2 separate regions of the Homo sapiens genome follow, and region 2 is reported to be linked to region 1. The links are microRNA targets in miRTarBase. Many come from high-throughput screens and were not tested one by one. Region 1 holds a microRNA gene; the other region holds the end of a gene's coding sequence.

Region 1 (3,145 bases):
GAGGACTAACCCGAGCCCCTGCAATTACTTTAGGCATCTATTTAAATATTACCTAGACGGTCGTAATTTGTCTGGGCCCTATAGCCCTGGTGCCGTAAGGTTTGTCGGCTTTTGTTCAGTTTTATGGCTTGCTAGTATATCTGGATTGTGGCTGTCTTGGACCAGTGATTTCAGTTGAGAGGGGAGCTACATAGACAGAGGAAGCCAAACAGGATTTCTTTCGGGAGCCCCAGGGAGGCTTGCAGAGGCCGGTTATTTTGCGGGTGTCTGGGTCACAGATGACCCTCAATCTGAATCGGGGAGCAGGCCTGGCCCACAGCGCATCTCTAGCCGCTGGAGGCAGCGGTTAGGTGGACCCGGGCTGGACTGCATGGGGGCCTCCCCCTCCCCCAGTACGGCCTCCCCCACCTGGCGGCACTCCTTAGGGCCACGCGTTTCCTGCTTGCCAGAGTGGGGGGGGCGGGGGCTAAGGGGAGGGGGCGCAGGAGCGCGCGCCCCGGCGGGCGGGCAGCTAGGAGGGAGAGGGGGAGAGCGAGAGGCGGGAGGCCGGGGCCAGACAGGGAGCCGGGATCTGTACCGTCCCTGGCGCTTTCGAGCCTTCCACGGCTACCGCCTCTTGGCGCCGGCTCGCTGGGCTGCAAGATTTGGGAAAGCGGCGCGCACACTGCTTCTCGGAGCTGCTCTCGTCTCGCCTGCTCCCCGCCTTTATTCCTCTCTCCCTGCCTTTCCTCCCTCTCTTTTCCTCCCTCTCCCTCCCAGGAATACCTTACTGGGGCCTGTGGCTTCCCCTTCCTTGACGCATTTGCGGCCGCCTGGGGCACTCTGTTGCACTGGCGGGCGCAGGTTGCCTAGGGGCTGGGCTGGGCCGGGCCAGGCGCGATGGCAGGGTTCTCTCCTTGGCGGCGGCGGCAGCGGCGGAGGCGGCGGCGGCGGCGGGCGAGGCAGCCCTTCGCGGGCAGCACCAGAACTGGTCGGTGATTTAGGTAGTTTCCTGTTGTTGGGATCCACCTTTCTCTCGACAGCACGACACTGCCTTCATTACTTCAGTTGAAATCGTCTCCAGGTACCTCTGCGCGCGGGGGTCGGGCCGGGCGGGGCATCACGGCCCTGGTCGTGCCAGGCCTGCGGTGGCAACCTCGGCTTTCCCTGCTCAGGAGCCTCGTGTCTTTCTCCGCAGCGCTTTGCCAGCCGGCCGGCTTTCCCCTTCCACCACACACCTCCACCTGGTCACAGCAGGTAGGGTTAGGTTGGCTGCTCCTTCGCGGACGCCGGGGGCGTGGTAGGAATTCTGGGCTTTGGGCCATTCAAGGTCAGGGGCGCCCGCTTCCATCCTGAGCCTCCCACTGGAGGCCTGCGCCTGCCCAGGGACCTCCTGCCATTCTCTTGTAAGGCTGGAACACACACACACACACACACACACACACACACACACACACCAGTCCCGGGTGTGAGCTCAGGAAAGAACCTCCTTCCAGTGGAGACTCAGGCTGGACTAGGAAGGATAGGGCAGGCTGGGATCCTGGCCTTGTCACTTACCCTTCTCTCTGTAAGCTCGGCCGCTGCTAGGAGTCGCCTCTCTTTTCTTCCTTCTTTTCCCTGTCTTCCCTTCCTCTTTTATCTCTTCTTTCTTTTTTTCTTCTTTCCTTTGCTCCTTCCTGCTTTCTTTTCTTCCGTTGGTCTTTTTTTCATCTTCCGTCTCTGCCAGATTCTATCTCACCTCCTTATCTCCTTCCCAAAGCATCCTTGGGGAGGGGCCCAGAGCTGGCTTCAGGAGAGCCTAGGGGGTCTCACTTTCCTCTGCGGCTCAAGTAGAGGTTGGGAAGTCTGCCGAGGAAGGGCCCGCGTGGGGCGGCTGCCGAGGGCGGTGGGTTTGGGCCTGGTGTGTTACTCTGCAGACAAGGCCTCGGTTATGATCACGACCGGATGGCGGCAGCCTTGCGTTTCTTCGCCTGTCGCTAACGGCTGACTAGGAGATCTGATTAGGGGACATTCGCTGCAGCTTTGTGTGCCCATATCGAGGGCAGGGAGGCCTTCGCCAGCCTCACTGGGGACTGGAGCTGAGGCCCAACCAGCCTCGCTGGAGCCTGGCCATTCGCTGGGAAGCTCTTAGCTGGCTCTTCCCGGCCTGCCGGTCACAGCTTGGGGTTTGACCGCATTGAGGGAGACTGGCTAGGGCAAAGCTTGACTGCTTGCTTACTAGTGGCTTCCATTAGGTACAAAATATGTTCCATACAGCACCTTTGTGCAGCTGGGTGCTGGAGAAGGGGACCCTTCCAAGAGCCAGTATGTTTTAAATGGGCAAAAAGAATCCCAAATTCCAGAGCCATTGATATAAACTTGAGTCATCGTTCCAAATTGTAGTCTACAGATGGGAGCCAGTCTGACCATTTTCCCTACAGAAAACAGAAAACAAACTATCTCTCCCTACTCCCAACACACACAGTTACAGATTCGTGCCCACAAAGCTGTTTCCTTTCCCTGCCTGGACTGGAGGCCCAGGAACTCTTTCGTTGCACAGCCACCGACCTGCTGTCTGAAAGGACCACACACCCCATTCCCTTCAACTCCTCCCTGCCATTTTCTGGACCAGGGCATTGGATTTATTTCAGAGATCACAGTTTCAGAAATCTCAGTCGAGAAGGGGCCGCTTTAAATTATACTCATTTATTATTTCTTTATGCATACGCAATCTCTTTCACTTCGAAAATAAAAGCAGACAAAAAAGTCAGACTATTCTGGCTCCAAACCTTTGGGCTGAAGGAAGACAATATTTGGTTTTCTGATTTTTCTCCGCTTTCTAGGCACCAGTAACATCTGCTTAACACTCAACGCCTGCTAATTGTTCAGTAACTCTCTTATTTTGGGGCTAAGGCTGTTTAAAGGAACAGCTTTTTTACTTAAAAAATACTGAAATAATCAGTGTCTTCTCAGGCATAAAACGTGGAAAAGGCATCCAGACATGCCCAGCCCATTTGCAGACACTTAAAATTGGGAGCCAGGGTTTCCTCCAGGGTTAATTTTTTAAATGAAAATCTCAGAGGCCTGGCGGACTGCGGGGTATTTAGGACACGGTGGACTGTGGTGGGGGTGGGCATGACCTAGAGGAATTTATGGGGCAAGGAAAATATTAGGGGGAGGGAGATGA
Region 2 (3,000 bases), not on the chromosome of region 1:
GGAGGGGCAGGGTGAAGGCAAGGAGGGGCAGGGTGAAGGCGAGGAGGAAGCCACAAGGCGAGGCCCGGGCCTGGCCGGGTAAAAGGAGCCAGGGGGTGTGAAACGGCCAGAGAAGAAGCGGGAAAGAGGGCCAGGCGGCCGCGTGGGGCTCCCAGGCTAACCTGCGCCGGTTCTGACCCCCAGGAAGCCACTGAGGAACGGCCTGGTGAAGGACAAGCGCTTCTGAACCCCTCGGCCCCGCCCCCGTGGACCCGGCCCCACCCCGAATACCCCGGCCACGCTCCCCGTCCTTGGCCGCCCCTCCACCCCCTCCAACTCTGCTCCTCTAGGGCCGCCGCCACCTCCCCTGGGACCCCGCCCCCTCATCCTGCCTCCAGTTCCCGGCCACGCCCCCCAGGACCCCTGCCCCTCCGGGGACACCGGCCCCGCCCTCAGCCCACTGGTCCCGGGCCGCCGCGGACCCTGCGCACTCTCTGGTCATCGCCTGGGAGGAAGATGCCACCGCCGCAGCAAGGTCCCTGCGGCCACCACCTCCTCCTCCTCCTGGCCCTGCTGCTGCCCTCGCTGCCCCTGACCCGCGCCCCCGTGCCCCCAGGCCCAGCCGCCGCCCTGCTCCAGGCTCTAGGACTGCGCGATGAGCCCCAGGGTGCCCCCAGGCTCCGGCCGGTTCCCCCGGTCATGTGGCGCCTGTTTCGACGCCGGGACCCCCAGGAGACCAGGTCTGGCTCGCGGCGGACGTCCCCAGGGGTCACCCTGCAACCGTGCCACGTGGAGGAGCTGGGGGTCGCCGGAAACATCGTGCGCCACATCCCGGACCGCGGTGAGTGGGGCTTTCGCTGGGGACACTGGTCCTGGAGGCCAGACCTCGCAGGGCGAGCCTCGAGAGTGGCCCGGGGATGCCCGAGCAGCTCCGAGGGTCCCCACCCGCCCTGTCCAGGCTACTAGCAACTTCGGCCACCGCACCTCACCCTTTCCTCGTCATCTGCTGCACGCCGGGGACACATGTCAGGGGGTTCCCAAGACCAGTCCTTCTGCTTGATGCTGAAGCCCTGTCCCCACCCCATGCCCACCCCCACCTCTTGACACTAATGCCTTCCTGCAGATGCCATCCCCACACCCTAGCATGGCTTCCCCAGGGGCCCAGGTTCTGGCTCATGTCTCCCACTTCGGCCACCCCTCCTCCTATGCCCCCCGCCGAGGGCAGCCCACCCCCCCCGCCGCACCCCGCAGGGCGCCTTCCTTGGAACTCATGCCCTGCCCCCACTCCATCAGCCCACCCCGCCGCTTCACACCCTTCCCACAGACGGTGCGCCCCGAGCCCCAGCGTTCACCTTCCTCCCTGTCCCTAACCGAGACCCCATGGGCAGGCCGGGGACGCAGCGCGAGCCGAGTTCCTGTTCCTACCTCCCCAGGTGCGCCCACCCGGGCCTCGGAGCCTGCCTCGGCCGCGGGGCATTGCCCTGAGTGGACAGTCGTCTTCGACCTGTCGGCTGTGGAACCCGCTGAGCGCCCGAGCCGGGCCCGCCTGGAGCTGCGTTTCGCGGCGGCGGCGGCGGCAGCCCCGGAGGGCGGCTGGGAGCTGAGCGTGGCGCAAGCGGGCCAGGGCGCGGGCGCGGACCCCGGGCCGGTGCTGCTCCGCCAGTTGGTGCCCGCCCTGGGGCCGCCAGTGCGCGCGGAGCTGCTGGGCGCCGCTTGGGCTCGCAACGCCTCATGGCCGCGCAGCCTCCGCCTGGCGCTGGCGCTACGCCCCCGGGCCCCTGCCGCCTGCGCGCGCCTGGCCGAGGCCTCGCTGCTGCTGGTGACCCTCGACCCGCGCCTGTGCCACCCCCTGGCCCGGCCGCGGCGCGACGCCGAACCCGTGTTGGGCGGCGGCCCCGGGGGCGCTTGTCGCGCGCGGCGGCTGTACGTGAGCTTCCGCGAGGTGGGCTGGCACCGCTGGGTCATCGCGCCGCGCGGCTTCCTGGCCAACTACTGCCAGGGTCAGTGCGCGCTGCCCGTCGCGCTGTCGGGGTCCGGGGGGCCGCCGGCGCTCAACCACGCTGTGCTGCGCGCGCTCATGCACGCGGCCGCCCCGGGAGCCGCCGACCTGCCCTGCTGCGTGCCCGCGCGCCTGTCGCCCATCTCCGTGCTCTTCTTTGACAACAGCGACAACGTGGTGCTGCGGCAGTATGAGGACATGGTGGTGGACGAGTGCGGCTGCCGCTAACCCGGGGCGGGCAGGGACGCGGGCCCAACAATAAATGCCGCGTGGTCTGCTCCGCTGGTCTCCTTGGACTCCTTGCCTGGGTGGTGGGGAGGGCGCCCCTCAGTCTTGGTGATCGGATAGGCCTTTCCACCTCCAGGCCACCTGCCAGAGGCCTAACGCGCCACTCCGGGGAGCCGCCCGGACAGGCCCAGGTGCTGCCTACGGGAAGGGCCCAGGGGCAGGGGTCGCCCTTCAGTCCTGCAAGGCAGACCTGTCCCTTCTGGGCTTTGCCTGTCTCCCTCTGGCCTCCTTCACACCCCAACCCGTCACTCAGCCAAGGCAAAACCCCAGCACCCTCCACCCCCTGCAGTTTATCCAACCTTGGTGTGAAGTCAAAACTGTTTATTAATATTTGGTGACAAAAGAACTTAAATTGACCGAAAATCAAAAGTTACATTGCCTTGGTACAGTGCGCCTGGGTTTGTCAAGGCTGCTGCTACAAAGCTGGAGAACACAGCACAGGGCGAAGCAGAGGCAAAGCGGCCCAGCCCAACAGCCGGGATGGGGCAGGGAGCGTCCCTCAGGCCGCCGCGGGGTCACCGCGGAAACCTACCCGGTGCATGCCTCTACGCGGCCTACCGGAAGAAGGGGAAACCGAAAGCCCTAGAGCAATGGGAATAAATAAGAGTCCCTGCCAGAAGGAAGGTGGCCTGTGCGTCCCCGTCTGTCCCATGTAGAAGCCGGAATCTGGAGGTGTTCGGATCAGGGCCAGTGACAGCCCCAGGCCCGGGGCAGGGGAAGCTGGAGGCCTGGCC

Evidence for each region. Region 1 holds the annotated microRNA hsa-miR-196b-3p (UCGACAGCACGACACUGCCUUC, at 1,016-1,037, shown strand). A microRNA usually pairs through its seed, bases 2 to 8, with sites in the 3' UTR of a target mRNA and lowers its output. Matches are read on the target gene's strand: a 7mer-m8 pairs with bases 2 to 8, a 7mer-A1 pairs with bases 2 to 7 and ends in A, and an 8mer does both.
Region 2: the mRNA of CERS1 is a reported target of hsa-miR-196b-3p. Seed matches in the 3' UTR shown: 7mer-m8 at 2,002-2,008.

The regions. Positions count from the first base shown.
Region 1 is chr7:27,167,385-27,170,529 of GRCh38, reverse strand. It overlaps MIR196B (microRNA 196b), which reads left to right and starts at 967; the gene lies at 967-1,050. The region is part of intron 1 of HOXA10-HOXA9 (HOXA10-HOXA9 readthrough); the gene reads left to right. It overlaps HOXA10-AS (HOXA10 antisense RNA), which reads right to left and starts at 1,631. Exons shown (of 3, transcript NR_046609.1): 1 at 1,537-1,631; 2 at 766-1,223. RefSeq lists enhancers at 765-1,355, 1,356-1,946, 3,136-3,145.
Region 2 is chr19:18,867,803-18,870,802 of GRCh38, reverse strand. CERS1 (ceramide synthase 1) reads left to right here. Exons shown (of 8, transcript NM_021267.5): 7 at 184-820; 8 at 1,413-2,258. The coding sequence ends at 226. UPF1 (UPF1 RNA helicase and ATPase) reads right to left here. Exons shown (of 24, transcript NM_002911.4): 24 at 2,573-3,000. It overlaps GDF1 (growth differentiation factor 1), which reads left to right. Exons shown (of 8, transcript NM_001492.6): 7 at 184-820; 8 at 1,413-2,258. The coding sequence starts at 496. The coding sequence ends at 2,206. Among named protein-coding and RNA genes, the nearest start is that of CERS1, 27 kb to the left of the region's middle.